Linked DNA regions of Homo sapiens. The protein of the gene in region 7 purifies or fractionates together with the protein of the main gene of each other region. This does not show direct contact. Each region holds a gene or a part of one and is shown on either strand. Other genes may lie near its edges. The genes, in order: TMEM59L, POMT1, GAS6, SLC27A6, CYB5D2, CNNM1 and HFE.

Region 1 (3,819 bases), on a different chromosome or scaffold from region 7:
CTCCATGAAGGAAGAGAACGATACCCATTTTAGGGCTCAGAGAGCACAATCCACTTCCCTAAGGGTACACAGGAAGCCAACTGCCACGCTGAGATCTGTGTTCACTATAAGAAGTCCTATTGGCCCAAATCACTTAGCCACATCCAATCCAAGTGAATTCTCCTAGCTCCTCTCCTGTTAGTTTATTTATTCATTTATTTATTTGAGATGGAGTCTCACTCTTTCACCCAGGCTAGAGTTCAGTGGTGTGATCTTGGCTCACTGCAACCTCTGCCTCCTGGGTTCAAGCAAATCTCCTGCCTCAGCCTCTGGAGTAGCTGAGATTCCAGGCGTGCGCCATCATGCCTGGCTAATTTTTGTATTTTTAGTAGAGACAGGGTTTCACGATGTTGTCCAGGCTGGTCTCAAACTTCTGGCCTCAAGTGATCGGCCTGCCTCAGCCTTCCAAAGTGTTGGGATTACAGGCGTGAGCCACCACATCCTGCCCCCTCCCATTCATTGGTTAATGCCCTATTTCGGTGCCATCTTTGTGTCTTGGACCTTTTTTCACCAGAGAAAGGTCCTGGAGGCTCCAAGTGGGGCCCTCTCCCTCTTGGACTTGTTTTCCACCCTCTGCAATGACCTTGTCAACTCAGCCCAGGGATTTGTCTCCTCCACCTGGACATACTACTTGCAGACTGACAATGGGAAAGTGGTGGTGTTTCAGGTGAGACCTCTGACAGGGGCCACGCCAGAGTGGCAGATGGGTGGGCAGGGTAAGAAGATGGGATGCATTGGCTCTTAGCTCATGAGATGCAAAGTCCACAGTGGGCGAGCTTCAGGCACAGCTGGATCCAGGGGCTCAGTGTCTCACTCCATGCCTTGACTCTGCTTTCTTTTGTGGTGGCTTCATTCCCAGGCATTTACTTCTTCTTGGCAGTAAGGTGGATGCCAGAGGCTCTAGGTTACAAACGCTGTGGTTTTTTTTTGTTGTTGTTGTTGTTGTTTTGAGATGGACTCCCATTCTTGTTGCCCAAGATGGAGTGCAATGGCATGATCTTAGCTCACTGCAACCTCCACCTCCCAGGTTCAAGTGATTCTCCTGCTTCAGCCTCCTGAGTAGCTGGGATTACAGGCGGCCACCACCACACCCACCTAATTTTTGTATTTTTAGTGGAGACGGGGTTTCGCCATGTTGGCCAGGCTGGTCTCGAACTCCTGACCTCAGGTGTTTCACCTGCCTCGGCCTCCCAAAGTGCTGGGATTACAGGCATGAGCCACTGCCCCGGCTCCCTCTGGGGTTTTAACTGAGCTGGGATTTACTCTGATTGGCCCTGGCTGGATCATATGACCATCTCTCAGGCAATTCACTGGCTTGGTCTGGATCATGTTCCTACTTCTGGAGCTAAAGGATGGGGTTAAGGCAAATGGAGGAGCCCATGAAAGCAGAAAACAACATCCCTGACATCAAGCCCACCCCTGATACCCAGGGGAACTGGGTATCAGCTGGGCGTGGGACATGGCAGTCACAGAGGGCCTGCCTGGGCCCAGGGGTGCTGTTCTCACAAGCCTCTCTGTGCTGTCTTGTTCCTGGCCCAGACTCAGCCCATAGTGGAGAGCCTCGGCTTCCAGGGGGGCCGTCTGCAGCGCGTGGAGGTGACCTGGCGAGGCTCCCACCCTGAAGCCCTGGAGGTGCACGTGGGTAAGGTGCAACCTAGACCAGTGTTCCTTCCATGGGTGGCCCCACTGCCACAAGGAGTCGGCCTGGCAAACAGACCTTCTAGGATCGGGATCTCCATCTCTCAAGTCCTGGGTTCCATGGCTCATCCCCCAGGTCTCCATGGTCTATTTCCCAGGGTTCCATGGTCCACCTCCCAGGGTTCCATGGTCCACTTCTCAGGGTTCCGTGGTCTACTTCCCAGGGTTCCGTGGTCCATCTCCCCGGGTTCCATGGTCTATTTACCAGGGATCCGTGGTCCACCTCTCAGGGTTCCGTGGCCCACCTCCCGGGTTCCGTGGCCACCTCCCAGGGTTCCGTGTTCCGCCTCCCAGCGTTCTGTGGTCCACCTCCCAGGGATCCATGGTTCACTTTCCAGGGTTCTGTGGCCCATCTCCCTGGGTTCTGTGGCCCATCTCCCAGGGTTCCATGGTTCATCTCTCAGAGTTCCATGGGTTCATCTCCTAGGGTCATCTCCTAGGGTCCATCTCCAAGGGTTCTTTGGTCCATCTCTCAGGGTTCCATGGTTCATCTCTTAGGATTCTGCAGTTCATCTCCCAGGGTTCTGTGGCCCATCCCCCAGGGTTCTGCAGTCCATCTCCCAGGGTTCCATGGTCCATTTCCCAGGGTTCCATGTTCCATCTCCCAGGGTTCCATGTTCCATCTCCCAGGGTTCCATGGGTTCATCTCCTAAGGGTCATCTCCTAGGATCCATCTCCCAGGGTTCCATGGGTTCATCTTCTAGGGTCATCTCCTAGGGTCCATCTCCTAGAGTTCTTTGGTCTATCTCTCAGGGTTCCATGGTTCATCTCCTAGGATTCTGCAGTTCACCCCCAGGGTTGCATGGTTCATCTCCTAGGATCCATCTCCCAGGGTTCCATGGTCCCTGTCTCAGCATTCTGTGGTCCATCTCCCAGGGCTCTGATCTCCATTCCAGGACTCTATGCCCCAGGTCCTGACCTCCTCCCTCCTGGTCATGGTTATTGTGGCCTCTTAGCAAAGACCTGGTGGTCGCTGAGTGGCAGCTGATCTCTCAGACCCTGTAGGCCCCCTGGACAAGGTGAGGAAGGCCAAGATCCGAGTCAAGACCAGCAGCAAGGCCAAGGTGGAGTCTGAAGAGCCACAGGACAATGACTTCCTCAGTTGCATGTCCCGGTGGGTGGCAGGACCTTGGGGGTGGGAGGGGGGTGGGACTGGAGGTACGGGTCTCCCTGGTCCCGGCCTGGGCAGCTGAGTGGTGCCTGCCGGGCGGGGCAGGCGCTCGGGTCTGCCTCGCTGGATCCTGGCCTGCTGCCTCTTCCTCTCCGTGCTGGTGATGCTGTGGCTGAGCTGCTCCACCCTGGTGACCGCGCCTGGCCAGCACCTCAAGTTCCAGGTGGGTGGGATCTGTGAATGGCGCTGGGCCGAGGGAGGGGGTGAAGGCAGAGAGAGCTGTTTGCTGGTCCTGGATTTGGCCACCTGCTCCCATGGAGGCCAGGACCTCAGACATTTTTTTCTTTTTTCATGTATATACATATATATACATATACGTGTGTGTGTGTGTGTGTGTGTGTGTGTATATATATATATATAATATATATATATATATTTTTTTTGAGATGGAGTCTTGCTCTGTCACCTGGGCTGGAGTGCAATGGCACCATCTCGGCTCACTGCAACCTCCACCTCCTGGGTTCAAGCAATTCTCCTGCCTCAGCCTCCGAAGTAGCTGGGACTATGGGCGCGGGCCACCACACCCAGCTAATTTTTGTATTTTTAGTAGAGACGGTGTTTCACCATGTTGGCCAGGCTGGTCTTGAACTCCTGACCTCAGGTGATCCATCCGCCTCTGCCTCCCAAAGTGCTGGGATTACAGGCGTGACCCACCGCGCCCGGCCTATATATATATTTTTGAGACAGGATCTCACTCTTTCACCCAGGATGGAGTGCAGTGGCATGATCACAGCTCACTGCAGCCTCGGCCTCCCTGGCTCAAGCAATCCTCCTGCCTCAGCCTCCTGAGTAGCTGGGACCACAGTCACGTGCCACCATGCCCCGCTAATTTTTGTATTTTTTGTAGAGATGGGGACTATGTTGCCCAGGCTGGTCTTGAACTCCTGGGCTCAAGTGATCCACCTGCCTTG
Region 2 (3,175 bases), on a different chromosome or scaffold from region 7:
TGGAGGAGCACCGATACGGCGCGAGTGAGTCCGCGGCGTGGCTTCCGCCGCTCCTGGAATGTACTTTCAGCTGCTCAATATTTGATAACACCCCAGAGTTCTCATTTTGGTGGGAAGGGAACTGAGCACATTCTCCATGCTCGGTGGCAGGTCATCTCCCTCCCTGCACCCTGCACTCAGCTGCTGCAGTAATAACTCAAGACGCTTCTTCCGAGGTGTCGCTGGAAGGCAACCAGTTTATCCCCGTGCAAGTGGAGCTTTCTCAGGGTCGAAATCACCTCATTTGACCGGGCAGTCTTGGGTGTGGTGGGGAAAGCTAAGTGGAATGATGCGGTTCGATAAGGGGTCTTTGTTAGAAAGGCAGGAAGCCAGCTTTTTGCTGCACTGACAGCTTCTGCTCTGAGCTCTTGACCTTGTGCTACTTCTATCTGTTATGCCCTTGTCTGTTCTGCCAGGCCAGGAGCAGAGGGAGCGGGAACGGGAGCTGCACTCACCTGCGCAGGTGGACGTCAGCAGGAACCTCAGCTTCATGGCGAGATTCTCGGAGCTGCAGGTGAGGAGCGGCCAGGGGAAGCTGGCCTAGCTCGCTGAGCATTGACTCCTCAGCAGGGAGGCCTGGGGGCTGCACAGGACTCAAACCAGAGTCAGGCTTTGACGCTGGAGCTACAGGCTCACAACAGAATGAGTGTCTCCTCTCTCCAGTGTAAGGGACTGTGTGTGACACCCCTGGCCCACACCTTGTGGCCCTGTGGTCAGGAATAATAGGGACCCAGGAGGTTCTGCAACATCGCCAGGGTGTCTTAAGGCCCCCAGGCAGCGAAATGGGCCACACTCAACAGAGCCCAAGAGAAGTCACAATCAGAAACTCACGGTCACAAATCTGAACGTGACCTTAGAGAGCATTCAGCCCAATCACTTCGTCTACAGAGGAGGTAACTGGAGCACATAGGGTGGGGCGACCCTCCCAAGGCCACATTCAGGGCTGGAATCCAGGTTCTCATCATGCTGCCTCCGATGCATGATCCGAATGAACTTGAGCTGGGCCAGTCCACGTGCAAGGGGCAGCAGTGTACTCCTTTGACCAAATCCACGCACAGCGGGAGGCATCCCCCATCCTCAATCTCAGAGGCCTCTGCTTTGTTCCAGTGGAGGATGCTGGCGCTGAGAAGTGATGACTCGGAACACAAGTACAGCTCCAGCCCACTGGAGTGGGTCACCCTGGACACCAATATTGCCTACTGGCTGCACCCCAGGACCAGCGTAAGCGAGCGATGCTGACAGCTGACAGTCATAGATTCATCCTGTTTCTTGAGAATTCCTTGCATTAAGAGCAGCCGCTGCACCCTAGAAAGTGCTGGGTTTCTCCCAAGCTTTTCCTGACAAAGGCCTGTGACTTGGTTTTCTCTAAACGCTTTGGCAACCTGGAGCCAGGAGTAGGGGTGTGGCATGTGTGCCTGTTGAAGGAAACCCGGCTTGATTGCTTTTGTGGAGACACATTGTTCCCCTTTTCCTGGCGAAAGTGGTTTTAAGATATTCCCATTCAATTTTCCGTGTGGCACCTGGTGGTGGAGCTTACCGGTGCTTTGCTGATGTGCGTGCCGTCTCTCCACCCGGCAGAGTGAAAGCATTGGTAGGCCGGGCGCACAGTCAGCGCCCCATAAATATTCACTGAATGGGCAGACGCTGGAAATGCCCACCTTTTTCCTCCTCCCTCAGAGGCGGGTAGGTCGGCTCAGCATGTGCACTGAAGGCAGAGGCTCAGGCCCAGAGGCCGCCCCACCCCGAGCTCTGAGCGCACTTTGCATTCTCCTCCGTGGACAGCGCTGCTGTTACAAAGTGGAGTCATCTGCTCCCAATTTTCAGTTTCCAATTACAAAATTGAGAGCATCAGTGCTGTGTGTGTGTGTGTATGTGAGAGAGAAAGAGAGAGACGGAGTCTTGCTCTGTCATCCAGGCTGGAGTACAGTGGCGTGATCTTGGCTCACTGCAACCTCCACCTCCCAGGTTCAAGCAGTTCTCCTGCCTCAGCCTCCAAGTAGCTGGTATTACAGGTGCCCACCGCAATGCCCAGCTAATTTTTGTACTTTTTAATAGAGACGGGGTTTCGCCACGTTGGGCAGGCTGGTCTCAAACTCCTGACTTCAGGTGATCTGCCCACCTCAGCTTCCCAAAGTGCTGGGATTACAGGCATGTGCCACCACACCCGGCTGGCATCAGTGCTTTTAATGAAAGGTCTGAGTAGGAGCAGACCTGTCCACAGTAGTAGTAAGGCCTAGTGGATGCTAGGCTGTGCCTGGCGTTTTTTCACTCTGCTAAAGTAGTGCGTGCATCTGAATTCCTTTCCTGTGTTCTCTTCTCTTCCCTCCCTGAGCAGAGGGCAGGTGGCTAACAGCATCTCCCATGTTCCCTTAGGCTCAGATCCACCTACTTGGAAACATAGTGATCTGGGTTTCGGGCAGCCTCGCTCTGGCCATCTACGCCCTGCTGTCCTTGTGGTACCTGCTCCGACGGCGAAGAAATGTCCATGACCTCCCTCAGGGTTAGTACCTCTCCCACATGGCTTTCTTTCTTTTTAATATAGACATGGGGTCTTGCTGTGTTGTCCAGGGTGTTCTTGAACTCCTGGGCTTAAGCGATCCTCCTGCCTCGGCCTCCCATAGTGCTAGGATTACAGGTGTGCGCTGAGCATTCACCGCCTCAAGTGACAAACCGACTTCATAGGAACCTACCCCTTAACGCGGCCTCTTTGTTTCTGTATTGTGGAATCTTAAATTATGTTTGTCTCCCAAGAGACAAAATGTTAAGTTCCCATGTTGCGTTAGAGGTGTCTCCAGTCGAGTGCAGCGTATTGGGCAGGAATTGCCCTCTTGGTCCCATGTTGCCCGTATGCGCTGGAAATGGCTGGGTAACACAGGCAGCCAGGCCGGGCGCGGTGGCTTACACCTGTAATCCCAGCACTTTGGGAGGCCAAAGTGAGGGAGTCACCTGAGGCCAGGAGTTCAAAACCAGCCTGGGCAACATAGTAAGAACCCTCTCTCTAAAAAAGCAAAAGAGAGAGAAGACCCGGCCTGTGGGAGCAGCAGAGTCGGTGTAGCTCGAGCCCTTTCCTATAGATGCCTGGCTGCGCTGGGTGCTGGCTGGGGCGCTGTGTGCCGGTGGCTGGGCAGTGAACTAC
Region 3 (4,484 bases), on a different chromosome or scaffold from region 7:
CTGTTTCTGTTTCCGGTTCCTGCCGGCAGGTGGATGCTGGGGACAGCCTGGTTGGGGCAGGGGCAGGGGCAGGGTCCAGAGGCTGGCTTGAGTCCCAGCCGGCTCCAGCACACCAGGCCCACCCCTCCCAGGACCCTAGTCTCCACTGCATCCTCTGCCACACTCTTGGGAGACCCCAGGCCCGAGGGGACTGTCCAAGCACAACTTCCTGCTAATGCATGAAAATCATCCATGAACTTCTCCCTGTCAAAGGCCAGGGGCTCCTTGTCTTTGAAATGTTGCTCACTTTACATTTTGTGCAGTGCGGCTGATTGAGGAAAAGGGCTGTGGCCTGAGCTCAAGAGGTGACCAGGACCTGGCCATGGTGACTGTCAGAGCATCCTTGGGTCCCTGGCCTCCCCAGGCCCAGGATCCTGATGTGTGGTCCTCCACGGGTGGTTGTAGGGAAGGTGGTCCCAGCCCCCTGCCATTTTAGGATGTGGGAAGTGCCTGGCCGCCGTTAGTTAACACGCACCTACCCAGCCCTGGCTGTTTCCCCTGGGCAGGCTCCTACGAGGGAGGGAAGGGACAGCTGGAGCCAGCTCTCCAGTGTGCTCACCTTCATGTCCACCTGCTAAACTGCTAACCTGCCCGAAGTGTGTCCCACTGCCCCTTGCTGGGGCATCTTCCTGGTTGCGCCTTCTTCCCGGAAGCACCCGCTGTGCAGCCCTTCCAGCAGGCAGATACTAAGCCCGGCACCCCTCCCAGGCTCCAGGCTCACTTGTGTGCTAACCTCTGTGCCCACCTGGCCACCTGCTCACCTGCCTGAAGCGTGTCCCACTGCCCCAAGCTGGGGCTGCTTCCTGGTTGTGAGGGAAGTGCCTGCTCTGCAGACCCCCACCTTCCAGCAGGCGGATACTAAGCCCAGCACCCCTCCCAGGCTCTGGCCCTCCCCACACACCTGTGGTTTCAAGCCCTGTTCTGCTGGAAGGGACACTCCTCCCACCTCCCCAGCCCTCTCTGCTGGAGCCGTGCCCCTCCCCCGACATTCCTCCAGGCTGGGCCACCCCCACATGCCTCCTTGCTCTCCACCGCCCAGACCTTCTCCTTATCTTGTTTTCCTTTTTATATTGTTGTTCTCCCTCCCTGGCCTTGCCTCTCCCTGCTGGGTTCCTTGCCCGAGTTTCTAATTCAGAGAAGACTGGGTAACTCCCCACAGTGTCTCTGCTAAAGCTTCCCAGGCCCAGTGACTTTTTACTAAATCCTCGAAGGCCATCAGGTTCCAGGGCCTGCTGAGGTCTCCATAATCACCCCTTGATTCCAGAAATGATCCGAGACTAGAGACTTATCCCAGCCCAGCCCTACTGCCCAGGTCCTCCGGTGCCTGCCTGGGAGCCTGTTTGTGCACTTTGATCCCCGGCCTGCCTGCCGGAAAATCATCCAGGCTGTGGTTCCTGATCCCATCACCTGGCTTTATCTGAGATACAAAGCACAATATTCACCGAGGGCTGGTGGCCTTCCCTGAGGGTTGGCCTGGATTAGCAACCTGCACCTGTACCCGCACCTGCACGACATGTGGCCAGGCCTGTGCTCCGAGGCCAGGTTTCCCTTCCCCCATCTCTTTCTTTGTCTCCCTCTGTGTTTCTCTCTCTGTCCCAGTCTCTCTCTTCTCCCCACTGCTGGTGGTGAGGAATTCTCCGCATGGGATGTTGGTGCATCCGTTTTCAAACTTGCTGGCTCATCCTGAACTGCATGTGCCCTCCAAGCACCTTTTCCCTGACCTTGTGGATTCTTTGGGAACAGCTGGGGAAGGGGTACCCTTTATGGAAATGAAAACCCCTCTGAGTCCCCACTTGGGAACAGCCACTTGGCTGGGACACAGGCCCAGATGTTGGGATGGCCTAAAGGGAGGTCCCTGTTGGAGGGGAGGGCTGTACAATGTGGGGGCGCCTGGTGGGGAAGGTGATGGCCAGGCTGAGACCTCCCCTGCCCTGCCTTGACAGAGGCTGCAGCACACTCCCACACACAGACACATGCACACACATTCACACATGGACACCAGCACAGATAGGTGCTGACTCATGGATACAGGTGTGCAGGGACACACACACCCCTACCTAGACACATGCACACATGTACATATGTTCCCATAGACACAGATATACATGCACACACACAGGCACACACATACTAACAGACATGTACATACGTATGCACACATTCACATAGATATACGTACACACACACACTGACAGACATGCACACACATAAACAGGCACACACACATACTAACAGACATGTACACATACATGCACACATTCACATAGACATACGTACACACAGTCACACACTGTCCAGACATGCACATACAAGGCACACACATACTAACAGACATGTATACATACATGCACACATTCACATAGACATACAGTCACACAGACATGTACACATGCATAATGACATGCACACACATACTAACAGACATGTACACATACATGCACACATTCACATAGATGTACCTACACAGTCACACAGACATGCATACATAGGCACACACAGACATGTACACATACGTACACAGTCACACACACAGACATGCACACACAAAGGCACATACTAGCAGACATGTACACATACATGCACACATTCACATAGACATATGTAAGCACACAGCCACACACTGACAGACATGCACACACATACATGCACACATTCACATAGACATACGTACACACAGTCACACACTGTCCAGACATGCACATACAAGGCACACATACTAACAGACATGTATACATACATGCACACATTCATATAGACATACAGTCACACAGACATGTACACACATGCATGACACGCACACACATACTAACAGACATGTACACATACATGCACACATTCACATAGACTTACATAGTCATGTACACACATGCATAATGACACACATACTAACAGACATGTACACATACATGCACACATTCACATAGACATACATACAGTCACAGACATGTACACACATGCATAATGACACGCACACACATACTAACAGACATGTACACATACATGCACACATTCACATAGATGTACATACACAGTCACACACACAGACATGCATACATAGGCACACACAGACATGTACACATACAGTCACAAACACACAGACATGCATACATAGGCACACACAGACATGTACACATACGTACACAGTCACACACAGACATGCACACACAAAGGCACATACTAGCAGACGTACACAGACATGCACACATTCACATAGATGTACATAGTCACACACAGACATGCATACATAGGCACACAGACATGCACACACAAAGGCACATACTAGCAGACATGTACACATGCACACATTCACATAGACATATGTAAACACACAGTCACACACACTGACAGACATGCACACACATGCACACATTCACATAGACATACGTACACAGTCATACACTGACAGACATGTACACACATGCATAATATGCACACATGTACACACAGTCACATAAATAGACACATATACACACACAGGCACACATGGATGCCCAGCCACATGCATGCAGACACACACAGACACATGTGCACCCTCTCACACACTTTTCTCTTTCTACAACTTTGGGGTCAGAAGACCACTGACAGCTGCAGCAGGATCACTAAAAAGTGACACAAGGTCACGGGGCTCTGTGGCCCCAGCTTCCTCAGACCCCCAGGGTCTCTCCACTCCCAGAGCCCCCTGCCTGAGGGGCCGGAGCCCTGTGGCCAAGGCCTTTCCTCCTGGGCCCATCCTGAGGCCTGCAGGTGGACCCCGGCCCGGCCTCCTCTGAGGGCCGTCTTCCGTGCTGGCTCCGCAGCCCTCTCCTGTGCCCGCACCTGTGCAGATGCTTGTTTTCACCCGGGCGTCTGCAGGCACTTGGTGCCAGGCTCCTCCGGGGCTTTCTCAGAGGCAGCCGAGTGCCAGGCCCTGCACACGACACCCTCACCCGAGCCGGAGAGCTTCACATCTGTGGAAAACTCTAATTAAAGACGTTTTGAGAAACGCTGAACGTCTCCCTTTGTTATTTAGGAACAAAACACTCTTTTAGGAAGCAAGTGCTTATGGCTTCTTTCTTGAGATTCTGAGTAAAGGGGCGTTAAGCTTGCTAGCTGGGGCATGCTGAGCACTTCCCAGGTTATGGCTTTACCCCAGAGCGATTGACAGGCATCCAGGTTTCCTCATGCTTCATTTTCCCCTGTTTTCTAAGGTTAAAACTGAGAGCTGTTTCTCCAATGCAAAGCTGCTTGTTTAAGGGTTTCGTATTTGATGTTGGAAATGCTCTGGACTCTTCCATGGTTTTTATATTCCAGTGATTTCACTGCAAACCTGGTGTGTACGCCTTGTAAATTTTGACCCTGGCCAAGTGAAAGGTTCATTTTAAAAGTTTTAAAATAAATTTTAAAGGGGAGCTGGAAGTGGAATAAGTTAAGAACAGTATCAGTTTTGCCTTTCACTCTGACAGAGG
Region 4 (4,484 bases), on a different chromosome or scaffold from region 7:
GAGGATGACTAGGTCCACTGTATAATTTAACTTTGGAATTTTAATGCAGGTGGAACAATTTTACTATTAAATGTTAAGAGCCCTAGAGGGATCACTCAGATGGTAAATTATTAAAATACAAAAGTGGTAACTATTTGGCTCATACTATTCTTAATCCACCACTTGTAGTATGAACAGTGGCAAATTTCTAATGTCCTATATTGCCAAACTATAATATAGAAATTAGTGAATTAATTTATCACTCTAGATATAATGTAAAGTCAGGCCAACTTGGATTTAAACGTGGTCTCTGACACTTAGAAATGGTGCAACTTTAGACAGATTACTCAACCTAAGTCTTATTTTCTTCATATGTAAAGTAGAAGTGACAATGTTTATTAAGTGAGGTTATTGTGGACGATTAAATGGGATGTATATATATTCCTGGGGGACCTGGTATGTGGCTTGTTACTTTCCTCTCCTCAGCTTCTCCCTCTCACTCCCCTCCCTTCTCTACCAAGGTAGACTTTCTTACAATTTTAGGTTAGAAATTTTCATGAAAGCAAGTACTTCAATTAACTTGCTGCTGCATATAATCAAATTAGAAAATAAAATATAGAGATGTGCACTTAGAATTGTTTAGAGATCCAGTATGGATAAATCAAGCCAAAATTAATTTGTATTGCCTTAAAATATGTTGAAACTGCATTTCAGAAGTGGCTTCCTAAATCTTTTCTTCAAATGTGAAGATAAGGTGACAAACCTGTTTTTATTTTCTGGTAGCTGAAAGACTAAAATAAAAAATGCAAACTTTGTCTATTAAAAAACAAATCTCCCAAATCTCTGAATTTCAAGCCTACTGGCATTTATCAAATATGTTTCTCCAATTCTAATCTGTAGACACTGCCCATGGGAAAATAATTTCTGAGCAGAGTGCAAAGAACTTAAGTGCACTTTTCTACTGTTCTATTTCTTACAATTATAGTAATATCTGATGTTAAAACTTGAATCCCAGAACTGTGCTTATGTAACCTCAGGGTTTCTTAAAAAGCTGGTTGACCCCAAATATCTGTTTTTCTATTTTGGAATTCTCATTATGAGCTACTCAATATTTTTTCCATTAAGGCATTGTGTCTTCACAATGTAAATTATGCCCAGACAGGAAAGATATGAATACACTGTGACCTATTTAAACATTTGCAACAATTAGTTTGTCAGAAAAGAAACTGTCACCTGTGTCCTAAAAAAGAAAAAAAAACGTAAGTTTTAAGGGAGATATAAGAGTCTTGAAAAATTCTGAAATACAGGGAATGTAGACTGACAGAATATATCACAGAGGTAAGGCTTTGGAGTCAGATGTACCTGGATATATATATATATATACTCCGACTCCTGCATTTGACAGCTGTATGACATTGGGCAAATTCCTTTTTTTACGCCTCAGTTTTTTCACCTTAAAATGAAGATATTATCTGGGCCTTTCTTATAGGTTTGTGATGAGAATTAAATGGATTACATATGTAAAACACTCAGAATCATGACTATTATGCAAAAAGTGCTCAATAGGTATAATTGTGATGATAATGATGGTGATGATGATGATATGATGGTGTTGGTGATATGATGATATGATGGTGATGATATGATGATGATGATGATGATGATGCTATCAGACTGCTGGGGCAGAGAAGATTTGCTTTGGCCAGTGACCTATGTGCCCTTGAAAGCCAGAATGCCCAGGAGTGGGAGAAATGGGAGTCGAGTAAAGACTGTTGGCTGGGTGCGGTGGCTCACGCCAGTAATCCCAACACTTTTGGAGGCTGAGGTGGGAGGATGGCTTAAGCCCAAGAGTTCTAGATCAGCTGGGCAACCTGGTGAGACCTCGTGTCTACAAAAAAATTACAAAATTAGCTGGGCCTAGTGGCATGCATCTGCAGCCCAGCTACTTGGGAAGTTGAGGTGGGAGGATCGGTTGAGTCTGGGAAGTCAAGGCTGTGGTGGACCATGATCATGCCACTTCACTCCAGCCTGGGTCACAGAGTGAGAGTTATTTTTTTTAAGAGCATTAAAAAGACAGAAATCACTCTGTATCATAGTTTGCTGGACTCCAACTTCATCTAGCCGCATGAACACTGCATCACTTTACAGCAGGCATAGCAAGTGGACAATAGCCTTGAAGACTTCCAGAGCAGTGATTGCTGCTGTCCTTTGTCCTCTCGTCTTCTCTTAGAAGTAGCTTTTACCTTGCAGATTGCTGAGAAAAACCTTAATTAATTTGAATAAGTTTGATTGGAAAATTATTTCAGATAATGTGTCTAAACATAACTGAAACTAATAAGTATCATAGAATAGGAAACCTTTTCAATGTCTCATCTCTTTCCCATCAAAAATTTCCAGAATAGCATCCCAGAGGAATAAACTGTTTTATTATAATAACATGTGTGTTGGATCAGAGATAGTATTATACAGAAACCTTGCCACACAAAGTCATAAAAACTTGAATTTGAGTTATAGGTCCATTTATTTCTCTGAGCGTGGCAACTATTTTACCCCTCTCGGTCCTAGTTCCTTGCTGGTGAAATAGGGATTATATCAAAGGATTTCTATGCAGAATAAGCAAAGTGGCATTTGCAAAGGGCTCATGGTAAATGCCCAATAAAAAATGCTATCATTATTTTATTAACACTATCACTACATTTGTTATTTATATAACAAATGTCAATATTATCTGTGGTAACATCTACATAATCCAAAACAAAAATAGCCGTTGGTCTATCCACCTGGGAAGTATAAGAAATCTAATGAGGCTTTTCTTTCCATTCAATTCCCTTTTTATTAGTTTTTCCAAAGTAATTTGTATTTGTGGTAATCTATGAAAGGATGTGCTGGATATAGGCACCAAGGGTAAATGATGTCAAATACAGAAATAGGTTCAGAGGAAGCTGAGATAAGCAGCATTGGTTGTGCTGGCCAGATATAATATAGATACATTCATGGTGTGTGTAACAATAGTTTTAATCAGATGGCTGCAAAAATGTCGTTCTTTCTTGCAGGAGAACCTGGACTTCTCATTTCTCGAGTGAATGCAAAAAATCCCTTCTTTGGCTATGCTGGGCCTTATAAGCACACAAAAGACAAATTGCTTTGTGATGTTTTTAAGAAGGGAGATGTTTACCTTAATACTGGAGACTTAATAGTCCAGGATCAGGACAATTTCCTTTATTTTTGGGACCGTACTGGAGACACTTTCAGGTATGAAATGTTATGGGATCCATAGCTTGTTCTGTAATTGTGAACCATGCTTCTATAGAAACATCAGAGACCACATATGCTTTAGCTTTCAGGGCAGACAGAGCCCTTTTATCTCCATGTCTCCTCATTAAAACATTTATTGGCCATCTGTTTCTAGACTGAACCACAAGTTAAATTTTGATGTAAAGTTTTATGATTATTTTAGTGAATCAGTTTAGAACAAATCAGTGAGCTCCTTTTTAAGGAAATAAAACTGGCAGACAGATGTAAAATATAAATGGTAGGGTTAAAACAGAAAGCCAGTTTGGTCAACTGTAGTCTAATTCTTGGCCTAATGATAAAAATTTTGAAGCAGCAAAAATCCCCTTTCTCACATTTCCTTTTTTAATTCCCTAAGATTATTTTAGGCCTATGAAATTATTTTGCTTTACTAGTCCAATGACTTGAATGAATAAGTAACTTCCTACATCCTTGCCTTCTTGTACCATGTTATAAGCTCACTTTATATAAAATTATTTCAATTAAAACAAAATATTCATTCAAAAGCATTAAAGGAGTCAAAGGGGGTTAACACCTAGAAATTTAAGTGGGTCAGAGTCAAAGGGGTTAACACCTAGAAACTGAAGTGGGTCAGTGTCCTAAAAGACAACTAGAGCTTTGCTTTCAATTCTTAACACCAGAGAAAAGGAATGTTTCACACTTCATTGTTATTTTACAAAATAATATTTTTGTAATGATAATCCTTGTAGTTATTTTATTTTTATGTATATTATAAAACATAGAAGGTAATTTATACAATGAGATATAAAGTAATTTTGACTAAAAGACCAATGCTGATTTTGTTGAAATACCAACAAAGTGCTTTCTTAGAAATGCCTTTCATCTTGAAAACTACAATTATGTTGGTCAGTAGGTGCTTGCACAGTGCCAAATGCAAGACATTAAAACTAAAACTGGGTACCTAGTTTTTCAAATACAGGTGCACTAACTGGAATTTGATTTTTTTCATTTAGATGGAAAGGAGAAAATGTCGCAACCACTGAGGTTGCTGATGTTATTGGAATGTTGGATTTCATACAGGAAGCAAACGTCTATGGTGTGGCTATATCAGGTATAAATATATTTCAGATTTTGGAAAGATTCTTAGAATAGAATTGCCACTATTCTCTAGTTTTGCAACAGTCTTGCTAATTCAACATTTTAATTTTTGTGTATTAAGATAAAGATTTTATTATTGTCTTGGCAAGTAATGC
Region 5 (4,484 bases), on a different chromosome or scaffold from region 7:
GAGGAGCTGGAGAAGTAGGAGGAAAATCAGGCCAAGGGAAGTGGTCAGCTGTGTTAAAGTTTGCCGAAGGTAAAAGAAAGAATATGACCAATGCCAAAGAGATGTGTGTCCAAGGTCTAGGAGCATCTTTCACAGAGGAGGTGGTGGGGACCCCATTTCCCTGGGGATAAGGAGTAGGGCTTGTCAAGAGACGTTTCTCAGAAAGCAGTTTCTGGCCAGGCGTGGTGGCTCACACCTATAATCCCAGCACTTTGGGAGGCCAAGGTGGGCGGATCACCTGAGGTCAGGACAAGCCTGGCCACCATGGTGAAACCCCATCTCTACTAAAAAAATACAAAAATTAGCCAGGCGTGGTGGCGGGCGCCTGTAATCCCCGCTACTCTGGAGGCTGAAGCAGGAGAATGGCTTGAAAGCGGAAGGCAGAGGTTGCAGTGAGCTGAAATCATGCCACTGCACTCCAGCCTGGGCAACAGAGTGCGACTCCGTCTCAAAAAAAAAAGAAAAAGAAAGAAAACAGATTCTTGAGTGGGGATGGTGTCAGTGGTTTACACCTGGGTCTGATGGAAACATCTCTGTTCCAGGCCGAGACGCATCCAGAGCTTTCGTGACCGGGGACTGTTCTGAAGCAGGCCTCGTGGATGACGTATCCGACCTGTCAGCCGCTGAGATGCTGACACTTCACAATTGGCTTTCATTCTATGAGAAGAATTATGTGTGTGTTGGTAAGTCGTCCATAGGTCATACATTTCATTTGGTTGTCTGCAGTGTTTTTAGGGGGCTGAGATTTTTTAGGGATTGGGTTCAAGCTTAAAATCTGAAAAACAGCCATGGATTTGTTTTACTTTAAATTCTGGTCGTTAGAATAGGGATGAGCCGCCCAGAAGGAGATGGATGGGCACCTGCTTCCCCCACTCTTAGTCTTGGGAGAGGATTACTAAGCTGCTTGCTTTGGCCTCAGTTTCGCCATAGCCAGTGGTTGCTTGCACCATCCTTGAACAACCAGCTCCAGAAGGGCAGCTTCCCTGTCTCACTGTGTTCGATGCATCTGGCTTCAGCACACAGCCAGAAGGGCTTGAAGCCTGAATTTGTGTTTCGACAAATCCCCTTTTATTTGGTCCTCTAGGAGGAGACAAACTTCGTGAGTGAGCTGTCTCCCAGGTGGTAGTTATGCTAATCAAACCACTGTGTAGGTTACTGCACTTGCTACTTACTGATGCTACATAAGGGACTTGCTTCTCAAATGAGACAACACCAAACTGTGTCCTAAAGCAGTGTTAAAGACTCTAAACACTAGGCCCGGCGCAGTGGCTCACGACTGTAATACCAGCACTTTGGGAGGCTGAGGCGGTTGGATCACTTGAGGTCAGGAGTTCAAGACCAGCCTGGCCAACATGGTGAAACCCTGTCTCTACTAAAAAATACAAAAATTACCTGGGCGTGGTGGCACGCACCTGTACTCCCAGCTACTCAGGAGGCTGAGGCAGGAGAATCGCTTCAGCCCGGGAGATGGAGGTTGCAGTGACCTGAGATTGCGCTACTGCACTCCAGCCTCAACGAAAGACACTAAACACTAGATTGCTTCACAAGTACTGACAACTGGGATGGCCGTAGCCCTTTCTTCTATCTATCTGCAGCCCCCACGTCTCACTGGAGTCCTACTTGGACATGACTGACTTCCTGAGGAACACCAGTATCACTTCACCATCGAAACAGGTCTAACTTGGAAGAATTCTTTCCTTAATGCCTCTGAATTTCTGCTTCTGTCATCACTGCTTGAGTTACCTTTTCTGAGAACCTTGGCATTTTTATTAACACCTCAGCTCCCTCCACATCCAATCAATCATGGCTTTTTCATAATATCTAAAGTTTGTGTCCATCCATTGTGGGCCTCTGCAGCACGCCTTTCTTCATTTTCTCTCGTATGCCCAAGATCAGTCTTGAGACCATAACCCTGTCTACCATCGAAGGCACTGACCTCTACTCACCTGCGCTTCAGAGGGCTGGGTTCTTCCCTTTCCCAATGAAGTTGCCAAACCAAGGTTGAAACATTACTGGGTTAATAAAGAAAAGAAAACCCAATAGAAAAGAATAAGAGCCAGGAGTGGTCTCTCACACCTGTAATCCTAACACTTTGGGAGGCCGAGGTGGGCGGATCACCACCTGAGGTCAGGAGTTCAAGACCAGCCTGGCCAACATGGTGAAACCCTGTCTCTATTAAAATACAAAAATTAGCCGGGCATGATGGCAGGTGCCTGTAATCCCAGCTACTCAGGAGGCTGAGACGGGAGAATTGCTTAAACCTGGAAGACGGAGGTTGCAGTGAGCCAAGATCGCACCACTACACTCCAGCCTGGGTGGCTGAGTGAGACTCTGTCTCAAAAAAAAAGAAAAAAAAGAAAAAGAATAAGAATGGAGTCCAGACCGGTGGCTCATGCCTGTAATCCCAGCACTTTGGGAGGCTGAGGTGGTCGGATCAGTTGAGGTCAGGAGTTCAAGACCAGCCTGACCAACATGGCAAAACCATGTCTCTACTATAAATACAAAAAATTAGCTGGGTGTGGTGGGACACACCTGTAATCCCAGCTACTCAGGAGGCTGAAGCATGAGAATCACTTGAACCTGGAAGGCAGAGGTTGCGATAAGCCGAGATCACATCACTGCATTCCAGCCTGGGCAACGGAGTGAGACCCTGTCTCAAAAAAAAAAAAAAAAGAACAGAGTCCTGTAAATGGGCAAAGAATGCCAGGCCAAATACTTCATACTAAGATTTGGGAGCACACTGGAAGTGTTCGGATGCGTTTGGTGTGACAAGTGAGCTGGTCTTGTTTGAATGATGTATAATGTGTTGAGGATGGGGTGGGGCATGTGGCGGGAAATGCCTCAGAAGGATTTTAGTTGATGTCAGGATCTTATTGAATACCTACTACTCATAAGTTACGGGTTCCATCCTCAGGGGGACCAGGGATGAATTGAGTCCAGTTCCTGCCCCTGTTAGCTCATTCTGTAGGATAGGGGCCATGTTAGGCTCTTTCAGGTTACCAGAAACCCTCAGGATACATCAGTGGATGAAGGTTTATTGTAAGGGTACATACTGAAGTGAGGACAGCCAGGAAGCCATCTTGGCAGCCAACATGGCCAGGCCTCAAGGGAAAACAAGATGGCCTTGGTTATGCTGTGGATACAGGATTGGCTTGGAGATGCAGCCACTGGTGATCACCATTCTCATGACACAGATTCTAGAACTCTTCCTCTGTTGCCTCTGCTACTACTGTCCTCTCTTTGGGTCTCATGTCAGAAACTCACCAAAGACAGGCTTGTCACCATATAACACAGACACCCCAACCCCCGTAGTGGGAAATTCTGTGCCAGGCCAACTCATAGACTGCAGGCCTGTGACTCGGGCCCTGATTCCTTTCTTTATTCATCTAATAAGTATTTAAAATGAATGCTCTATGCTAAGCTGTTTTATTTATTTATATATTTTTTCAGATGGAGTCTTGCTTTGTCACCCAGGCTGGAGTGCAGTGGCACGACTGCAGCTCACTGCAACCTCCAACTTCTAGGTTCAAGCAGTTCTCCTGCCTCAGCCTCCTGGGTAGCTGGGATTACAGGCATGCACCACCACGCCCAGCAAATTTTTGTATTTTTAGTAGAGACAGGGTTTCACCATGTTGGCCTGGCTGGTCTCGAACCCCTGACCTCAAGTGATCTGCCCGCCTCAGCCTCCCAAAGTGCTGGGATTACAGGTGTGAGCCGCTGCGCCTGGCGCTAAGCTGTTCTGAGTACTGCGCCTCACTAGTAGAGAGAGCCATCATAGACAAGTAAACAGATTGAACAACTCCACATAGGACCATGCATCAAACTGTGATGTAATACGTTTGGGAGCTTTGGCTCCTTTAGAGCACATGCTCAGGAGTGGCTTCTTGGAGAAAATGACCGTTAAGCTGAGACCGGCAGGTGAGTGGGAGGCAGCCACACCGAGACCTGAGGAGAGTGTGCTGGGTCAGGGAAGAGCGGTGCGAAGGTGGGGAGTGGGGAAGCACAGCCAAGACACAGAAAGGAAGCCAGTGTGCTGGAGCCCCCCGTGAACGAGGGGGGACGTAGCTTGTAAGAGGCTGAAGAAGCAAATCAGTTAAATGGTTACAGGGCCTTAGAGGCCTTGATAAGAAATTTGCATTTTTGTCTGCTTTAAGAAGCCATTGAAGGGTTTTAATCAGGCATCGGAGAGCCATGGTAGGATTCATGTTTTTAAAAGATCCCCTAGTTGTTTTATGGACAGAGAACTCTAGGAGGGCATGAGCTGACCAGAGAGCAGTTAGGAGGCCACTGCCACAGTCCGTGGTTTGGAGGAGGGTGATGGCAGTGGGAATGGAAAGGAGTGAACAGAATCAGGATCTGTTCAGAGGTAGGACTGACGAGGTTTTCTGATGGATCCGATCAGACAGCAAGGAAGGGAGTATGATGTGGATGTAGAGGAGGAGGAG
Region 6 (5,201 bases), on a different chromosome or scaffold from region 7:
CTCTTGCTGCAGCCTCCCAAGTAGATGAAACTACAGGCATGTGTCGCCATGCCTGGCTAATTTTTTTTAATTTTTAATTTTTTAGAGACAGGGCCTCCCTACATTGTTCCGGCTGGTCTCTAACTCCTGGCCTCAAGAGATCCTCCCACTTCAGCCTACCAAGTAGTTAGGATTACTATATTTTAAAATGTAATACAGACTTATGATAAATTTACCCAAGAGAAATAAAAATTTATGTTCTCACAAAAACCATCACACAAATGTTCATAGCCACTTTATTAATAATTGCTAAAAACTGGAAATAACTTAAATATCCTTTATTGAATGGATAAACAAACAGTGACACATCCATATAATGGAATGCTACTCAGCCATACAAAAGGATGAACTACTGAAAATCACAACAACATAGATGAATCGTAAATGCATTATGCTAACTTAGTAAAGGAAGGGAGAACCCAAAAGGCTACAGACTGTATTCTCCATTTATATGATAATCCGGAAAAGAAAACTATAGGGGAGAACAGATCAGTAGTTCCCAGAGGATAAGACGAAGGGAGGGGTTGACTACATACAATAGGACGGTAAGAGAATTTGGGGGGTGGTGGTGATGGAATTACTTTTTATTGTGATGTTTACATGTATATGCATTTGTCAACATTCATAGAACAGTACACCAAAAAGTGAATTTTACTATATAAAGTTTAAAAATAAATGCATAAAAATAATATAGTCGAGTAAATTCAAACAATATAAGGAATTTAATAAGAAAGTCTCCCTCCCAGATCTTGGTGATAATAGATCTGTATTTTGAGTGCAGTGATGGTCACATACATCCATACATGTGATAAAATGATAGAGAACTATATACACACATTACACCAATATCAACTTCCTGCTTTTGATATTGTACTATAATTAAGATGTAACCCGCCAGGCACGGTGGCTCATGCCTGTAATCCCAGCACTTTGCGAGGCCGAGGCAGGCGGATCACCTGAGGTCAGGAGTTCGAGACCAGCCTGGCCAACGTGGTGAAACCCCGTCTCTACCAAAAAAAAAAAAAAAAAAAATTAGCCGGGCGTGATGGCGGGCGCCTGTAATCCCAGCTACTCAGGAGGCTGAGGTAGGAGAATCGCTTGAACCTGGAAAGCGGAGGTTGCAGTCAGCCGAGATCGCGCCATTGCACGTCAGCCTGGGTGACAAGAGCGAAACTCCGTCTCAAAATAAATAAATTAATTAAAAGATGTAAACGGCGGGTCGCGGTGGCTCACGCCTGTAATCCCAGCACCCTGGGAGGCCGAGGCAGATGGATCATTTGAAGTCAGGGATTCGAGACCAGCTTGGCCAACATGGTGAGACCCCATCTCTACTAAAAATATAAAAATTAGCTGGGCGCGGTGGCGCACGCCTGTAATCCCAGCTACTCAGGAGGCTGAGGTAGGAGAATCGCTTGAACCCGGGAGGTGGAGGTTGCAGTGAGCCAAAATTGTGCCACTGCACTCCACCCTGGGCGACAGAGCAAGACTCCATCTCAAAATAAATAAATAAATAAATAAATCTCATATAAGTGTGTGTGTGTGTACAAATTTATACATAAATACTTTTAACACAAATGGTAGCATATTATACTTGCTGTTCTGCACCTTACTTTGTTTCTACAATTACTTTGGAGATTTTTTTCCGTATCACATATACAACAGATCCACCGCATTATTTTTTATTGCCGCATAGTATTCCATTGCACAGTGGTTTCACTTATTTCAACAGTTTCTTATTGATGGACATTCGGATCTTAACTAAGAATTGAACTTAAATAATCCAGAAATGTTTACAATAATGAAAGGTCGGCTGGAGTTGAGGCTAAAAGTTTTCACATATTCAAGACTTGACTCCAGAATATTCTTTTGACCAGAAGGGGGAATGCAAGTGGCAGGAGAAGCGAAAAGCTGGGAAATTTCCCGGGCCAATGGGGAAGCAGTGGAGCCGGCAGGGAATTACTGCCGGGTAGGAGTTCGCAGAGGAGCACCTTACTTTTGGAGTAGGAGGCCATGCTGCAAACCCAGACTTTTCAGGCTGCATCTCAGATATACCGAAGTGTGTACCCGCTACGCACAGTGCGGTGATGCCTGGCCACCTCCAGCCTCCAGCGGGGACCTCCTGCCCAGGTGGAGTCTGAATGCCCACCGCCACCAGCCCACGCGCGCAGTGGGCGTACACGTGGTGACCTGCCTGCGGCTGGGTTCCCAGCTCCGGCTCCTCCTCCCTCCAGCTCTCGCTCGGCTTCCTGCAGTATCACGTGCAGCTGCGCTGGGTGCAGGATGGCGGCGGCCGCGGCGGCGGCAGCAGCGGTGGGTGTCAGGCTCCGGGACTGCTGCAGCCGAGGCGCTGTGCTCCTGCTCTTCTTTTCCCTGTCTCCTCGGCCCCCGGCCGCCGCCGCCTGGCTGCTGGGCCTGCGGCCCGAGGACACTGCTGGAGGCCGCGTGTCCCTGGAGGGGGGCACCCTGCGCGCCGCCGAAGGCACCAGCTTCCTCCTGCGTGTCTATTTCCAGCCAGGACCGCCGGCCACCGCCGCACCGGTGCCCTCACCGACCCTCAACTCGGGGGAGAATGGCACCGGCGACTGGGCTCCGCGGCTCGTGTTCATCGAGGAGCCCCCGGGCGGTGGCGGCGTGGCCCCCAGCGCGGTCCCCACTCGCCCCCCGGGACCGCAGCGCTGCAGGGAGCAGAGCGACTGGGCATCGGACGTGGAAGTCCTGGGGCCCTTGCGTCCCGGGGGCGTGGCAGGCTCGGCCCTGGTCCAGGTGCGAGTGCGGGAGCTGCGCAAGGGCGAAGCGGAGCGGGGCGGCGCGGGCGGTGGCGGGAAGCTCTTTTCACTCTGCGCCTGGGATGGGCGCGCGTGGCACCACCACGGCGCCGCCGGCGGCTTCCTGCTGCGCGTTCGCCCGCGGTTGTACGGCCCAGGCGGGGACCTGCTGCCCCCTGCGTGGCTGCGGGCGCTCGGGGCGCTCCTGCTGCTAGCCTTGTCGGCCCTGTTCAGCGGCCTGCGCCTGAGCCTGCTGTCGCTGGACCCGGTGGAGTTACGGGTGCTGCGGAACAGCGGCTCGGCCGCCGAGCAGGAGCAGGCGCGCCGCGTGCAGGCCGTTCGCGGCAGGGGGACCCATCTGCTCTGCACCCTACTCCTGGGCCAAGCCGGAGCCAACGCGGCCCTGGCTGGCTGGCTGTACACCTCGCTGCCGCCGGGCTTCGGGGGCACCGGGGAAGACTACAGCGAAGAGGGGATCCACTTCCCGTGGCTGCCGGCGCTCGTGTGCACCGGCGCGGTATTCCTGGGCGCCGAAATCTGCCCCTACTCAGTGTGTTCGCGGCACGGGCTGGCCATCGCCTCGCACAGCGTGTGCCTGACCCGGCTTCTGATGGCAGCCGCCTTCCCCGTGTGCTACCCGCTGGGCCGCCTGCTGGACTGGGCGCTGCGCCAGGAGATAAGCACCTTCTACACGCGGGAGAAGTTGCTGGAGACGTTGCGGGCCGCAGACCCCTACAGTGACCTGGTGAAGGAGGAGCTCAACATCATACAGGGTGCCCTGGAGCTGCGCACCAAAGTTGTGGAGGAGGTGCTGACCCCCCTGGGAGACTGCTTCATGCTGCGCTCAGACGCGGTGCTCGACTTCGCCACTGTCTCCGAGATCCTGCGCAGCGGCTACACTCGCATCCCAGTGTACGAGGGTGACCAGCGGCACAACATTGTGGACATTTTATTTGTCAAGGACTTGGCCTTCGTGGACCCCGACGACTGCACCCCGCTCCTCACTGTCACCCGCTTCTACAACCGGCCCCTGCATTGTGTTTTCAATGACACCCGACTGGACACGGTTCTGGAGGAGTTTAAGAAGGGTGAGCAGTAGTCTATCTTCTCCCCCAACTCCTATCCCCTTCAAAGGTATTATCCTTTCCTAACCACGTGAGGCTCTAGGTACCCAAAGCAATTTCTCTCCTATGGTACTAAAAACCCAAGGAAGACTCTACCTCTTGGCTCCCTGGCTATTTTCATCTCACTTCTGCCTCACTTCTTGCTCCTGATTGAGCCCCAGGCCTCTTTCCTCTCTACTTGATTCACAAGATGCACCATATTCCTTATTTGTTCCATTCTACCAGGTTTTTCCAAGGCCTACCAAATGTCAGATACTGTGTAGGTGGGAGATAGCCCTTGAAGGTCATTGCATAGCTCCCCACCTATTACAGGAGACACCTCTGCAGGTTCCCATACAAGCAGCCTTTGCTTTAAACTCCTCCCAGGGCCGAAAGCTCACTATTTACAGAGCAAACTAATTCCATTGCTGGACAGCTCCAGTGGCTGACAATGTTTCCTCATATAGAGCAGAATTTGTGTCTCCAAATCCTTCTACCTCTTCTGCCTTTTGAATCATGTAGACTAAACCCAGACACCTTAGACGTTCTTCCCCATACTTAATTTCCCATCAGGTATTGATTGCACACATATCAAGTACTCAGGTCCAGGGCCGGGCGCGGCGGCTCATGCTTCTAATCCCAGCACTTTGGGAAGCTGAGGCGGGAGGATTACTCGAGCCCAGGAGTTCAAAGCTGCAATGAGCTGTAATCCCACCACTGTACAAAAGAGCAAGACCCTGTCTTTGCCCGGGGGGGAGGGAAGTACTCAGGTTGGGGGTTAAAAGTTGACTAAGGCAGTAGGATCCTTGTAAGTCTGGGAACTGTGGTCCTGTGAAATAGGATAGATCTGGACCTGAAGAAATATTCTGGGTAGAGGAGATCCTAGAAAACTTGCATACCCAAATGAGTGGGGTTTCCTTCAGCGCAGTCACCATCTTCCAACTCTCCTCCCCAAACTCAAGCTTGATGTCATGCTTATAACATGTTTACTTCATGTCTGAGTTTGTCTTCAGAAAGTGCCTTCTGGTGACTACAAATTCACTCAAGAAAAATCAGCCTGGATACATTAGAGTCACCCCTCTTGGCATTACACAGTTTGACCGCCCCCCTAGTTCACCAGATTTGGCCCAGAACCCTTGATTGTTTTTTAAAATCAAATCTACTTTCAAGAGTCAACACTGAGAGCATTCAAAAGACTATCTCACAAACCCTGAAAGCAACACCAGACATCATAATTTGAAAACAGGGACATAATTAGAATAAGTGTAGAACTTCCCAGAATGACTCCTTTGAA
Region 7 (5,201 bases):
TTTTTTTTTTGAGATGAAGTCTTGCTCTTGTCTCCCATGCTGGAGTGTGATGGCACGATCTTAGCTCACTGCAACCTACGCCTCCCGGGTTCAAGCGATTCTCCTGCCTCAGCCTCTAATGTAGCTGGGATTACAGTTGCCTGCTATCACGCCCGGCTAATTTTTGTATTTTTAGTAAAGACGGGGTTTCACCATGTTGGCCAGGCTGGTCTCGAACCCCTGATCTCAGGTGATCTGCCTTCCTCGGCCGCCCAAAGTGCTGGGATTACAAGCGTGAGCCACTGAGCCGGGCCAATTTTTGCATTTTACATAGATGAATTATATGGTATGCTAATTATATCTTACCAAAAATTGAAAAAAAGGAATAGTACTATCAGCCCCAATGTGCCCATCATCAATATTCTACATGTTTCCAATGTTATTGTATCTGTTTGCCTACAGTCGAGGCCCTGATATCCTGTTTGATTTTCTTGAATTGCCAAAATTTGCATACATGCTTACAAAAATAATGCCTGTTGAATTTGCTAGATATGTAAAGGTTTGGAGCAAATCAGGTGTATTAAATTTATTAATATTGTTTGAAATGTCTAAGGCAATAATTCCCAAACTTCGTTGAGGGAGAAGGAAAGCTTTTAAAATCCCATTGCCCAGGTGGCATCCCATACTGTTACTGGGAATTATGCATTGGGATGGATCCTTTAACCGAGGAGATTATTATAGCCGGAGCTCTGAACCAGCAATCTCAGTTCTTGTGATAGTGAGCAAAGAACTACAAACTAACACCAAAATGCAAGCTTAAAGCAAAGTTTATTGAAGCACAATAATACACTCTGAGGGACAGCGGGCTTATTTCTGCGAAGTGAACTCAGCACTTCTTTACAGAGCTCAAGGTGCTTTTATGGGGTTTGTGGGGAGGAGTTGAGGTTTGGGCTGTATCTGAGTGACAGGATGATGTTATTTGATTGAAGTGTATAGCTATACAATCTAAAATTAAACTGTGCATGGTCTTACCTATAATTTGTTAAGAAAAGCCTCCCAGGGATGGGGGGGCAAAACTGTATGTAAATTCTATTATAATGATGGCATGATGAACTTGGGGTGAACTTGAAGACAGGCTTTTGTGTTGTTGGGCATGTGCCACCTTAGGGAATTTCCACCTGTACCCTCCTTTCTCTTTCTCCAGGATATTTTGGCCACAGACTTTATCATAAACTCCATCCCTTAGGGTGGCATTAGGGTAGTCTTGGGCCTGAATTTAGGTGGGCCAGTGGCTGTCTTAGTGACAGCCTTTCCGCTCTCTTCTGTCATCCCCTCCCAACTGCTAATGTCTAACTACCTAACAATTACCCATTAAATCAGTGTGTCTGGGGTTAGGAGCAGGCCTCAATATGTTTAATCATTCTCCAGATAATCCCAATACTGTAAAGTTTGTGAAACACTTGTCAGATAATTCAATTATGAAGGCTGTGGAAGGTGTTTCAGTAGGATCTAATTGGTTAATGTTATGACTTAATTAATTTGAATCAAAAAACAAAATGAAAAAGCTTTATATTTCTAAGTCAAATAAGACATAAGTTGGTCTAAGGTTGAGATAAAATTTTTAAATGTATGATTGAATTTTGAAAATCATAAATATTTAAATATCTAAAGTTCAGATCAGAACATTGCGAAGCTACTTTCCCCAATCAACAACACCCCTTCAGGATTTAAAAACCAAGGGGGACACTGGATCACCTAGTGTTTCACAAGCAGGTACCTTCTGCTGTAGGAGAGAGAGAACTAAAGTTCTGAAAGACCTGTTGCTTTTCACCAGGAAGTTTTACTGGGCATCTCCTGAGCCTAGGCAATAGCTGTAGGGTGACTTCTGGAGCCATCCCCGTTTCCCCGCCCCCCAAAAGAAGCGGAGATTTAACGGGGACGTGCGGCCAGAGCTGGGGAAATGGGCCCGCGAGCCAGGCCGGCGCTTCTCCTCCTGATGCTTTTGCAGACCGCGGTCCTGCAGGGGCGCTTGCTGCGTGAGTCCGAGGGCTGCGGGCGAACTAGGGGCGCGGCGGGGGTGGAAAAATCGAAACTAGCTTTTTCTTTGCGCTTGGGAGTTTGCTAACTTTGGAGGACCTGCTCAACCCTATCCGCAAGCCCCTCTCCCTACTTTCTGCGTCCAGACCCCGTGAGGGAGTGCCTACCACTGAACTGCAGATAGGGGTCCCTCGCCCCAGGACCTGCCCCCTCCCCCGGCTGTCCCGGCTCTGCGGAGTGACTTTTGGAACCGCCCACTCCCTTCCCCCAACTAGAATGCTTTTAAATAAATCTCGTAGTTCCTCACTTGAGCTGAGCTAAGCCTGGGGCTCCTTGAACCTGGAACTCGGGTTTATTTCCAATGTCAGCTGTGCAGTTTTTTCCCCAGTCATCTCCAAACAGGAAGTTCTTCCCTGAGTGCTTGCCGAGAAGGCTGAGCAAACCCACAGCAGGATCCGCACGGGGTTTCCACCTCAGAACGAATGCGTTGGGCGGTGGGGGCGCGAAAGAGTGGCGTTGGGGATCTGAATTCTTCACCATTCCACCCACTTTTGGTGAGACCTGGGGTGGAGGTCTCTAGGGTGGGAGGCTCCTGAGAGAGGCCTACCTCGGGCCTTTCCCCACTCTTGGCAATTGTTCTTTTGCCTGGAAAATTAAGTATATGTTAGTTTTGAACGTTTGAACTGAACAATTCTCTTTTCGGCTAGGCTTTATTGATTTGCAATGTGCTGTGTAATTAAGAGGCCTCTCTACAAAGTACTGATAATGAACATGTAAGCAATGCACTCACTTCTAAGTTACATTCATATCTGATCTTATTTGATTTTCACTAGGCATAGGGAGGTAGGAGCTAATAATACGTTTATTTTACTAGAAGTTAACTGGAATTCAGATTATATAACTCTTTTCAGGTTACAAAGAACATAAATAATCTGGTTTTCTGATGTTATTTCAAGTACTACAGCTGCTTCTAATCTTAGTTGACAGTGATTTTGCCCTGTAGTGTAGCACAGTGTTCTGTGGGTCACACGCCGGCCTCAGCACAGCACTTTGAGTTTTGGTACTACGTGTATCCACATTTTACACATGACAAGAATGAGGCATGGCACGGCCTGCTTCCTGGCAAATTTATTCAATGGTACACTGGGCTTTGGTGGCAGAGCTCATGTCTCCACTTCATAGCTATGATTCTTAAACATCACACTGCATTAGAGGTTGAATAATAAAATTTCATGTTGAGCAGAAATATTCATTGTTTACAAGTGTAAATGAGTCCCAGCCATGTGTTGCACTGTTCAAGCCCCAAGGGAGAGAGCAGGGAAACAAGTCTTTACCCTTTGATATTTTGCATTCTAGTGGGAGAGATGACAATAAGCAAATGAGCAGAAAGATATACAACATCAGGAAATCATGGGTGTTGTGAGAAGCAGAGAAGTCAGGGCAAGTCACTCTGGGGCTGACACTTGAGCAGAGACATGAAGGAAATAAGAATGATATTGACTGGGAGCAGTATTTCCCAGGCAAACTGAGTGGGCCTGGCAAGTTGGATTAAAAAGCGGGTTTTCTCAGCACTACTCATGTGTGTGTGTGTGGGGGGGGGGGGCGGCGTGGGGGTGGGAAGGGGGACTACCATCTGCATGTAGGATGTCTAGCAGTATCCTGTCCTCCCTACTCACTAGGTGCTAGGAGCACTCCCCCAGTCTTGACAACCAAAAATGTCTCTAAACTTTGCCACATGTCACCTAGTAGACAAACTCCTGGTTAAGAAGCTCGGGTTGAAAAAAATAAACAAGTAGTGCTGGGGAGTAGAGGCCAAGAAGTAGGTAATGGGCTCAGAAGAGGAGCCACAAACAAGGTTGTGCAGGCGCCTGTAGGCTGTGGTGTGAATTCTAGCCAAGGAGTAACAGTGATCTGTCACAGGCTTTTAAAAGATTGCTCTGGCTGCTATGTGGAAAGCAGAATGAAGGGAGCAACAGTAAAAGCAGGGAGCCCAGCCAGGAAGCTGTTACACAGTCCAGGCAAGAGGTAGTGGAGTGGGCTGGGTGGGAACAGAAAAGGGAGTGACAAACCATTGTCTCCTGAATATATTCTGAAGGAAGTTGCTGAAGGATTCTATGTTGTGTGAGAGAAAGAGAAGAATTGGCTGGGTGTAGTAGCTCATGCCAAGGAGGAGGCCAAGGAGAGCAGATTCCTGAGCTCAGGAGTTCAAGACCAGCCTGGGCAACACAGCAAAACCCCTTCTCTACAAAAAATACAAAAATTAGCTGGGTGTGGTGGCATGCACCTGTGATCCTAGCTACTCGGGAGGCTGAGGTGGAGGGTATTGCTTGAGCCCAGGAAGTTGAGGCTGCAGTGAGCCATGACTGTGCCACTGTACTTCAGCCTAGGTGACAGAGCAAGACCCTGTCTCCCCTGACCCCCTGAAAAAGAGAAGAGTTAAAGTTGACTTTGTTCTTTATTTTAATTTTATTGGCCTGAGCAGTGGGGTAATTGGCAATGCCATTTCTGAGATGGTGAAGGCAGAGGAAAGAGCAGTTTGGGGTAAATCAAGGATCTGCATTTGGACATGTTAAGTTTGAGATTCCAGTCAGGCTTCCAAGTGGTGAGGCCACATAGGCAGTTCAGTGTAAGAATTCAGGACCAAGGCTGGGCACGGTGGCTCACTTCTGTAATCCCAGCACTTTGGTGGCTGAGGCAGGTAGATCATTTGAGGTCAGGAGTTTGAGACAAGCTTGGCCAACATGGTGAAACCCCATGTCTACTAAAAATACAAAAATTAGCCTGGTGTGGTGGCGCACGCCTATAGTCCCAGGTTTTCAGGAGGCTTAGGTAGGAGAATCCCTTGAACCCAGGAGGTGCAGGTTGCAGTGAGCTGAGATTGTGCCACTGCACTCCAGCCTGGGTGATAGAGTGAGACTCTGTCTCAAAAAAAAAAAAAAAAAAAAAAAAAAAAACTGAAGGAATTATTCCTCAGGATTTGGGTCTAATTTGCCCTGAGCACCAACTCCTGAGTTCAACTACCATGGCTAGACACACCTTAACATTTTCTAGAATCCACCAGCTTTAGTGGAGTCTGTCTAATCATGAGTATTGGAATAGGATCTGGGGGCAGTGAGGGGGTGGCAGCCACGTGTGGCAGAGAAAAGCACACAAGGAAAGAGCACCCAGGACTGTCATATGGAAGA

What was found.
Region 1: the proteins of HFE (region 7) and TMEM59L purify together in Homo sapiens (affinity purification with mass spectrometry; one large-scale study listed by BioGRID and IntAct). This does not show direct contact.
Region 2: the proteins of HFE (region 7) and POMT1 purify together in Homo sapiens (affinity purification with mass spectrometry; one large-scale study listed by BioGRID and IntAct). This does not show direct contact.
Region 3: the proteins of HFE (region 7) and GAS6 purify together in Homo sapiens (affinity purification with mass spectrometry; one large-scale study listed by BioGRID and IntAct). This does not show direct contact.
Region 4: the proteins of HFE (region 7) and SLC27A6 purify together in Homo sapiens (affinity purification with mass spectrometry; one large-scale study listed by BioGRID and IntAct). This does not show direct contact.
Region 5: the proteins of HFE (region 7) and CYB5D2 purify together in Homo sapiens (affinity purification with mass spectrometry; one large-scale study listed by BioGRID and IntAct). This does not show direct contact.
Region 6: the proteins of HFE (region 7) and CNNM1 purify together in Homo sapiens (affinity purification with mass spectrometry; one large-scale study listed by BioGRID and IntAct). This does not show direct contact.

What each region holds. Positions count from the first base shown.
Region 1 is NC_000019.10:18,615,422-18,619,240, forward strand, and holds part of TMEM59L (transmembrane protein 59-like precursor), read left to right. Parts: intron 1-553; coding exon 554-706; intron 707-1,578; coding exon 1,579-1,681; intron 1,682-2,733; coding exon 2,734-2,851; intron 2,852-2,953; coding exon 2,954-3,071; intron 3,072-3,819. UniProt on the Homo sapiens protein: Modulates the O-glycosylation and complex N-glycosylation steps occurring during the Golgi maturation of APP. Inhibits APP transport to the cell surface and further shedding.
Region 2 is NC_000009.12:131,518,934-131,522,108, forward strand, and holds part of POMT1 (protein O-mannosyl-transferase 1), read left to right. Parts: coding exon 1-24; intron 25-455; coding exon 456-553; intron 554-1,146; coding exon 1,147-1,260; intron 1,261-2,412; coding exon 2,413-2,539; intron 2,540-3,113; coding exon 3,114-3,175. UniProt on the Homo sapiens protein: Transfers mannosyl residues to the hydroxyl group of serine or threonine residues. Coexpression of both POMT1 and POMT2 is necessary for enzyme activity, expression of either POMT1 or POMT2 alone is insufficient.
Region 3 is NC_000013.11:113,857,286-113,861,769, reverse strand, and holds part of GAS6 (growth arrest-specific protein 6 precursor), read left to right. Parts: intron 1-4,484. UniProt on the Homo sapiens protein: Ligand for tyrosine-protein kinase receptors AXL, TYRO3 and MER whose signaling is implicated in cell growth and survival, cell adhesion and cell migration.
Region 4 is NC_000005.10:129,024,101-129,028,584, forward strand, and holds part of SLC27A6 (long-chain fatty acid transport protein 6), read left to right. Parts: intron 1-3,032; coding exon 3,033-3,231; intron 3,232-4,244; coding exon 4,245-4,342; intron 4,343-4,484. UniProt on the Homo sapiens protein: Mediates the import of long-chain fatty acids (LCFA) into the cell by facilitating their transport at the plasma membrane.
Region 5 is NC_000017.11:4,149,310-4,153,793, forward strand, and holds part of CYB5D2 (neuferricin isoform 1 precursor), read left to right. Parts: intron 1-581; coding exon 582-722; intron 723-4,484. UniProt on the Homo sapiens protein: Heme-binding protein which promotes neuronal but not astrocyte differentiation.
Region 6 is NC_000010.11:99,327,069-99,332,269, forward strand, and holds the start of CNNM1 (metal transporter CNNM1), read left to right. Parts: upstream 1-2,287; 5' UTR 2,288-2,319; coding exon 2,320-3,892; intron 3,893-5,201. UniProt on the Homo sapiens protein: Probable metal transporter.
Region 7 is NC_000006.12:26,085,502-26,090,702, forward strand, and holds the start of HFE (hereditary hemochromatosis protein isoform 1 precursor), read left to right. Parts: upstream 1-1,927; 5' UTR 1,928-1,939; coding exon 1,940-2,015; exon of another isoform or gene 2,016-2,661; intron 2,662-5,201. UniProt on the Homo sapiens protein: Binds to transferrin receptor (TFR) and reduces its affinity for iron-loaded transferrin.